Homo sapiens: one gene and its partner. The protein of the gene in region 1 purifies or fractionates together with the protein of each later gene. This does not show direct contact. Each region holds a gene or a part of one and is shown on either strand. Other genes may lie near its edges.

The links.
Region 2: the proteins of DNAJC28 (region 1) and ANKRD52 purify together in Homo sapiens (affinity purification with mass spectrometry, with the first as the bait; one large-scale study listed by BioGRID). This does not show direct contact.

What each region holds. Positions count from the first base shown.
Region 1 is NC_000021.9:33,488,631-33,493,239, forward strand, and holds the start of DNAJC28 (dnaJ homolog subfamily C member 28), read right to left. Parts: upstream 3,087-4,609; 5' UTR 2,972-3,086; intron 2,772-2,971; exon of another isoform or gene 2,436-2,771; intron 795-2,435; 5' UTR 764-794; coding exon 1-763.
Region 2 is NC_000012.12:56,251,759-56,255,567, reverse strand, and holds part of ANKRD52 (serine/threonine-protein phosphatase 6 regulatory ankyrin repeat subunit C), read left to right. Parts: intron 1-615; coding exon 616-703; intron 704-847; coding exon 848-990; intron 991-1,288; coding exon 1,289-1,501; intron 1,502-1,767; coding exon 1,768-1,846; intron 1,847-2,165; coding exon 2,166-2,280; intron 2,281-2,481; coding exon 2,482-2,564; intron 2,565-2,670; coding exon 2,671-2,788; intron 2,789-2,997; coding exon 2,998-3,066; intron 3,067-3,252; coding exon 3,253-3,393; intron 3,394-3,472; coding exon 3,473-3,553; intron 3,554-3,809. UniProt on the Homo sapiens protein: Putative regulatory subunit of protein phosphatase 6 (PP6) that may be involved in the recognition of phosphoprotein substrates.

The DNA of each region.
Region 1 (4,609 bases):
CTGGTTGGTATCCATTATCGATCAGTATTCGGTTCAGGTTGTGAGTCATGGGATCAATGTAAGAACAGTCAGAAAACTTTTTCAGAGGTTTTCCTTTCCCACTGAGATTGTCAAAGTCTCCTTTTGCCATGGATTCTTGAATGAGGTCCTCCACTAAACGTTCTATAGCTTGCGTTATCTTTTGCTGTTTGCTCTGTCTTATATTTTTAACAATTACACTATCAGGAAAATACTGGCTTTGTAGTTTCTGCTTTTGATATTCCATCACTTGTTCAGCAGCACGGTCTGCCCTAAATTGCCTATAATGCTTCTCTCGTTGAGTTGGAGTCCCAAAACCAATACCTTCAAAACTTAAATAATGTCGGTGTTGGGGTGTTTTATATTTGAATTTTTCTACATCTTCTTCTTCTTCACCTTTACTCTGACTGGCATTTGTTTGTTCTATCACATGGGAGAGCACCTTTCTATAAGCTTTTTCAATCCTTATAAATGTTGCAGAATCAGCAGTATTAGAGCCACTGTCAGGATGATATTGCTTGGCAAGCTTATGAAAAGATTCCCTGACTTCATCTGCAGAGCATCCTTCCTCCACGTTCAGCAGTCTATAATATTCTCTGATCTTCTTTTTGGATTTATGGGTTGACATCATTCTATTTCTAATGATACCAAAATATGGAAGCATTTTCACTCGATTAGGAATCACTGTAGCCTTTATCAGGTGAGATCTTAAGATCTGAGCCATCATCACATACATTGTATTCATTATTGTACCCAGAGTTCTTCCTAGCAATGACCTATAAAACGACAACAAATATAGGTTGAACAAAGTTGTATTATCAGTTAATTTCTTATTTTCAGCAATAAGGTAAAAGATACAGCATGAATTTATAAGTACAACAAGGGGCAGTTCTTTTGAATGCTGCTGTCAACTTTTTCCTTTTTTTTTTTTTTTTGAGACAGAGTCTCGCTCTGTCACCCAGGCTGGAGTGCAGTGGTGCCTCCACCTCCAGAGCCACGCCTAGCTAATTTTTTTGTATTTTTAGTAGAGAAGGGGTTTCACCATATCGCCCAGGCTGGTCTGGATATCCTGACATGGTTATCTGCCCGCCTCGGCCTCCCAAAGTGCTGGGATTACAGGTATGAGCCACTGCGCTCAGCCTTTTTTTTTTTTTTTTTTGTCTGAGACAGGGTCTTGCTCTGTTGCCCATGCTGGAGTGCAGTGGCACAATCGTGGCTCACTGCAGCATCAACCTCCTGGGCTGAAGTGATCCTCCCACCTCTGCCTCTCATGTTGCTAGGACTACAGGCGTGCACCACCACACCTGGCTAATTTCTGTATTTTTGTAGGGATGGGGTTTCGTCATGTTGCCCACCCTGGTCTCCAACTCCTGAGCTCAAACGATCTGCCAGTTTCTGCCTCCCAAAGTGCTGGGATTATAGGGGTGAGCCACTGTGCCCAGCCACATTCTTTTTTCTTTTCTTTTCTTTTCTTTTTTTTTTTTTTGAGACAGAGTCTCACCCAGGCTGGAGTGCAATGGCATGATCTCGGCTCACTGCAACCTCTGCCTCCCGGGTTCAAGCGATTCTCCTGCCTCAGCCTCCCAAGTAGCTGGGATTACAGGTGCACGACACCACTCCTGGCTAATTTTTGTATTTTTAGTAGAGACGGCGTTTCACCGTGTTAGCCAGGATGGTCTCGATCTCCTGACCCTGTGATCTGCCCGCCTCGACCTCCCAAAGTGCTGGGATTACAGGCGTGAGCCACCGCACCCAGCCCCACCAGCTGCATTCTTATAGCTATATTTCACTGATGTGGGCAGAAAAGTGGAAGCTGATGAAGTTTAGTGTTAACATATTGTGGGGCCAGGCACGGTGGCACACGCCTGTAATCCCAGTACTTTAGGAGGCCGAGGTGGGTGGATCACCTGAGGTCAGGAGTTCGAGATCAGCCTGGCTAACATGGCAAAACCCTGTCTCTACTAAAAATACAAAAATTAACTGGAGGTTGCAGTCCCAGCTACTCGGGAGGCTGAGGCAAGAGAATCGCTTGAACCCGGGAGGTGGAGGTTGCAGTGAACCGAGATCGTGCCACTGCACTCCAGCCTGGGCAACAGAGTGAGACTCTGTCTCAAAAAAATATAGATAGATAGAATCTGGATTCTACCCCTCACTAACTAACCGTATATTTTACAAGTGGAAAGTTCTTAGAGATCATCTAATCCAATCTTCTCATTTAATGAGAAAACGTAGGTCCGGAAGGTTAAGCAATTTAACCAAGTCCCATAACAAGGTGTAAGCAAAATGGTTAGGGGTGGGCACAGTAAAAAAGGAGGCTTGCTTAACTGTCTATACCTCCAGCCGATTATAAACTGCACGAGAGTCTGCATCATCTCAAGAAGTCTTCTCATAAGACGACTTATGGACAAGGTACGTACCTGGTCTGATACTGGATTGAATAGAATCAAGTGTCCAAAAGACTTTAAGCTCCACAGCTCGCTAGGAAGGAGCTATCTGCCAGAGGCCAGAAAAACCATGATGAATTGTGAGGCCTCCCAACACGTTTGCTGCTATTGCAATAACATGGTCTCGAAGAGGAGGAAGACTTGTACACTGACAATGGCCAAAAAATACTGGAAGTGGCTTAATTGGAATTGGGATATATAAACGCTAAAACGGAGCTCCTGAGACCCCCTATTTTCTAGGCAATCGGTGCCAACGGTCTGGGAGCCGGCTGCGAAGGTGGTTATCATGGCAAGGGAGGTCGGTCCTGCCCCGCCCCCTCCTCACCTGCGCAGACCTGGGGTAGGGGTTCCGCGGCTCCCGCCCCCCTGCCGCGCCTCTGCGCATGCGTGCGCGGTCCGCCCTTCACTGCGGGTGTCCCTCCCACCGCCTCCAGCTGGTGCCTCCGCCGGGCTAGACCATTTGCCACTTTACACTGAGGGGCTCGGGGGTACGGAAGGCAGAATCGTACCTGATTGGGACAGGTGACCTTACCAGGAAAACGGACAATCTTCCGCCAAACGAACTTTACCCCGGAGGACCCAGGCAGGGCACCTCGGGAGCCTTCGTCCCGACCGGGGACCACCAGCTCCACCTCCGTCCCCGCCCCGAGCGGAGGTGGTCCGGCCGATTGGGATTGTGGGAGATGTAGTTCGCTAGAAGGGGCGATGTGCGCCTGCGCCTCTCGGGAGGGACTTAGGGGGCGTCGAAAATGATGTAAAGACCGAGTTGGCGGCGTGGGGAGTTGTGGCTCGGAGGGCGAGGGTAACTTTCTGGGGGCAGGGGAAGGCAAGGCTGTTTCCCCGGAACGGGACCGGAACAGGTTTATTCGGGGTCACAGAAGGAGTCACCTGCGCAGATACATGAGGCTTAAAACCTGCCCTTTTATTAATTCAAGTACTGTTGAGGGGCTGGCGACAGGCCAGAGGACAAAATCAAAATAGGGATCTTCTGGCTTGGAGTTCAACCACTGACGTGGGGACTGAGCATTTCCCCTCTCTGTACAGGAAGCAAGTTTTTTAACAAGGAAAAAGAAAAAGGATAAAAAGAAAAAGGCAGAGGCTTGGGAGTTTTCAGATCTGGGTTGAAAATCCTGTTTCTTCTGCTTGCACCTTAGGCAAGATACCTGCAAAATGAGAGTTGCAATAAATAGTAAACTATAGTAAATAGTATGCCATTGTGCTAAGTGCTTTATGTATATTCTCATTTACTTTTTTTTTTTTTTTTTTGAGACAGAGTCTCGCTCTGTCGCCCAGGCTGGAGTGTGGTGGCGCGATCTCGGCTCGCTGCAACCTCCACCTCCCGGGTTTAAGCTATTCTCCTGCCTCAGCCTCCCGAGTAGCTGGAATTACAGGCGCGCACCACCATGCCCAGCTAATTTTTTTGTATTTTTAGTGGAGACCAGGTTTCACCATGTTGGCCAGGCTGGTCTCGAACCCCTGAGCTAAGGTGATCTGCCTGCCTCGGCCTTTCAAAGTGCTGGGATTACAGGCATTCATTTAATCTTTACAACAGCCCTCTGAGATAAATGCTGTTATTTTCCCTATTTTACATATAATGAAATAATAATTGTATCAACTTCATTGACTTTTTTAGGGGGAGAATTACACAATGTATGTAAACCACTTGGCACTGTGCCTCGCACATTAAGCAATATTTTTTGTTATGACTGTGTCTCCTAAAAGGAGCCAGAAATAGGTATTAGCCTCCTCAGCTTCTACATCATAAACATTAGAATCATTTATTGCCATCTATGTAGGAACACAGAAAAAGATACAGTATAAACTCTGATTCTGAGGGCTTTAGTTATAAGCAAACAATCAACAAAATAACTCATGTGAAAGAAAATAGGATTTCTGGCCGGGCGCGGTGCTCACGCCTGTAATCCCAGCACTTTGGGAGGCCGAGGCGGGCGGATCACGAGGTCAGGAGATCGAGACCATCCTGGCTAACACGGTGAAACCCCGTCTCTACTAAAAATACAAAAAATTAGCCAGGTGTGGTGGCGGGCGCCTGTAGTCCCACCTGCTCGGGAGTCTGAGGCAGGAGAATGGCGTGAACCCGGGAGGCGGAGCTTGCAGTGAGCCTAGATCGTGCCACTGCACTCCAG
Region 2 (3,809 bases), on another chromosome or scaffold:
ATATTTGCATACACGCCTTTCTGAAGAGAGTCCATGTCTTTCAGCACATTTGCAAAGACTTACAAGAGTTTAAGAACCGGCCGGGCACGGCGGCTCACGCCTGTAATCCCAGCACTTTGGGAGGCGAAGGCGGGTGGATCATGAGATCAGGAGATCGAGATCATCCTGGCTAACATGGTGAAACCCTGTCTCTACTAAAAATACAAAAAATTAGCCGGGTGTGGTGGCGGCCGCCTGTAGTCCCAGCTACTCGGGAGACTGAGGCAGGAGAATGGCGTGAACCCGGGAGGCGGAGCTTGCAATGAGCCGAAATCATGCCACTGAACTCCAGCCTGGGTAACAGAGCGAGACTGTCTCAAAAAAAAAAAAAAAAAGAGTTTAAGAACCACCAGATCACCTGAAGAGACTCTCTTGTTTCCCTTAAAGTTCCAAATCTCTCCAGTATCTCCTCCTTAGTGCCTGCTTCTGCTGTTCCCTCGAGTCCTCCAGGTTGTTTTGCTCATGGAAAAAGGCATTAGGCTGCCTCAGCCTTTTCAGGAGATGAGGCCTCTGCTCTTAGGTAGGTTGAGGGCACGAATCTAGCTCTGAACAGGTGTCTTTCATATCCTGATGCAGACGGTGAACCTGCTCCTCAACAAGGGAGCCAGCCTGAATGTCTGTGACAAAAAGGAGCGGCAGCCTCTGCATTGGGCAGCTTTTCTAGGTGAGAGAGAATACACGGGAAAATCAGAAATTTGACATTTAGGATTCCTAGGGCAGGGATGTGGGGTTGCAGCCTTTGAAGAGAGGAGTGTAGGGTCTTAGAGTTTACCTTCTACTTCCTTTAGAGTGTCTTCTCTTTTCTCAGGGCACTTGGAGGTCCTAAAACTGCTGGTGGCACGGGGAGCAGACCTCGGCTGCAAGGACCGCAAGGGCTATGGGCTGCTCCATACAGCTGCTGCCAGTGGCCAGATTGAAGTGGTGAAGTACCTGCTTCGGATGGGAGCGGAGGTCAGGGCTTTGAGCTCTGGGGTTGGGAACTATGGGCAGCAAGTAGGAGATTATAGTCTGTTACGGAGATATGAGGTATTGGGATGTTGGTATAGTTTTGGGAAGTTGGAAGGACGTGGTAGAGAGGGTCTGAATAATGCTTACCTTAGCCATAGTGCCCTTAGTACCTTAGTACCTTGGGTCATAAACCCGAGAGGAAATGAGGCAGTCGTTGGATTTCTGGGATCTGGAGGCTACATGTGCTGGCTTCTACTTTGTTTAAACTGATACCACCTTACTCTCACCCCTGAATATCCAGATCGATGAACCCAATGCTTTTGGAAACACAGCTTTGCACATCGCCTGCTACCTGGGCCAGGATGCTGTGGCTATTGAGCTGGTGAATGCCGGAGCCAATGTCAACCAGCCGAATGACAAGGGCTTCACGCCACTGCATGTGGCTGCAGTCTCCACCAATGGCGCTCTCTGCTTGGAGCTACTGGTTAATAATGGGGCTGACGTCAACTACCAGGTGCCTGAAGGGATAAGGCTTAGACCAGTGGGGAGCGAAACTTGGATCTAGGGGTCCTGACTGTATCTGGATAGCTCTCTTGGGGAATTATCCACTTGCTTCCTAGGGTAATCAGACCTTGCCAGGGACTCAGGAAAGAGTGGGCTAAGAAGGTGCCATATGACCCTTTTGTCCTTAGAGATATGTCCTTGGAAGGGAGGTAGGGCATTCTCTGTGCTTTGCACTGGAAAAAAAAACAAAAACAAAAACCCACCATGTTTCCACAGAGCAAAGAAGGGAAAAGTCCTCTGCACATGGCTGCAATCCATGGCCGTTTCACACGCTCCCAGATCCTCATCCAGAATGGTATGGACCTGGGAGACTTTGTGCTCTCATCCCCTCCTCCCCCAAGGAACTCATTTCTAGAATCTAGGGAGGTTCCTAACTTCCTTCTCCTGCCCTCTTCCAGTAGGATAGGCCCTTGGAACTCTGACCAAGGGACCTGTGGAAATGGCCCTGCTCTGCCCTGCCCAGTCTCCTAAGGCCTAGAAACAGGATAAAATATGTAGAATCCTGGGCCTGGCACCTGATGCATACATAGTAGGCACTCAAATCATGGCTAGCTCGCGAAAGTGGTCTTAAGCCTGAGGTCTGCCTGAGCTTGTGTGTGTGCATCCCCTCACAGGCAGCGAGATTGATTGTGCCGACAAATTTGGGAACACGCCACTGCATGTGGCTGCTCGATATGGACACGAGCTGCTCATCAGCACCCTCATGACCAATGGCGCAGATACCGCCCGGTGAGTCAGGGCCCCGACTCCACTTCTGGGCTGCCCAGATCTGCACAGACTGCTCACATCAACCATGGAGGCACAGATAAGCTTGCCAAAGGGCACCTTGGAGAACCTCCTACCCTGACTCTAGGGTGGTGGTAGGTCACAGAAGAGGTCTTACTTGGTCCCTCCTTGACCCAAGGACTGAGTCCCTCAACTTCTCTCTAGGCGTGGCATCCATGACATGTTCCCCCTGCACTTAGCTGTTCTCTTTGGATTCTCTGACTGTTGTCGTAAGCTTCTTTCCTCAGGTATGTGCTGATGGGCTGGGGATTGGCAGGTGTATAGGAGAGCAAAGGCCTTTCCCTCCCTGCTGAACACTCTCAGATGTGACCTGTGGCTGTTCTGTGCCTCCAGGTCAGTTGTACAGCATTGTGTCTTCACTCAGCAATGAGCATGTGCTTTCAGCTGGGTTTGACATCAATACACCTGACAACCTTGGCCGTACCTGTCTTCATGCTGCTGCTTCCGGAGGGTGAGTTCTCTTTCTCTCTCCCATGCTTTGAGCAGGGAGCTGGGCAAAGGTCTGGGCCCCTCATTCTTGCCTGCCCAGATCTATTCCCCCTCTCACAATGAAAGCAGTCACAGCAGAAAGGGCTTGCTAGTCCCATCCTTCCTTAGCCCCACCCTGGGCCTGTGGCTTCCCTTTGAGGCTGTAACTCTCTTAACACATCTTTCTTTTAGGAATGTTGAATGTCTTAATTTGCTGTTGAGCAGTGGAGCTGACTTGAGGAGGAGGGACAAATTTGGCAGGTATGCTAATATGCAGGGGTAAACATAGGGAATATCTGATTAGAGAAACAAATGGTAGAGGGAGGAAGGGTTTAGATTGGAGACTTAAATAAGGAGAATGTTACAAAGCAGCATTTGGCTGCACATCTGATTGCATTCGTATCTGTCTCTGATTCTCTTCCCCACCCTCCTTCACTTCTTCCCCAGGACCCCACTGCACTATGCAGCTGCTAACGGTAGCTACCAGTGTGCAGTAACATTGGTGACTGCTGGGGCAGGTGTCAACGAGGCCGACTGTAAAGGCTGCTCTCCCCTCCACTACGCTGCCGCTTCTGACACTTACAGGAGGTGAGGCTACCAGTCTGGTCCTTCTCAGCCCCATTCACCTCCCTGAGCCTGGCCCTAACTTTCTCTCTCTCTTCCCCAGAGCGGAACCCCATACACCTTCCAGCCATGATGCCGAAGAGGACGAGCCACTGAAGGAGTCCCGCAGGAAGGAGGCCTTCTTGTGAGTAGCAGAGAGGGCCCCTGGGATGTGCTTTCCCCAACCCATGCAAGCTCTGGCCCTACTGTCCTCCTACCTAATCTGAACCTCTACCCTATACTGCTGCTGTCCTGCCGGTCAGCCAGCAGTGTGTCTTGAGCCCTCTGGGTGTAGTCCATAGTGGGCAAAGACAAAAGTATGAGATTGAAGCTCAGGAGCTTCAGGGGGAAAAAAAAACCCAAAAGTATGAGACATAGTTCCTTCCCTAAAGGAATGGATT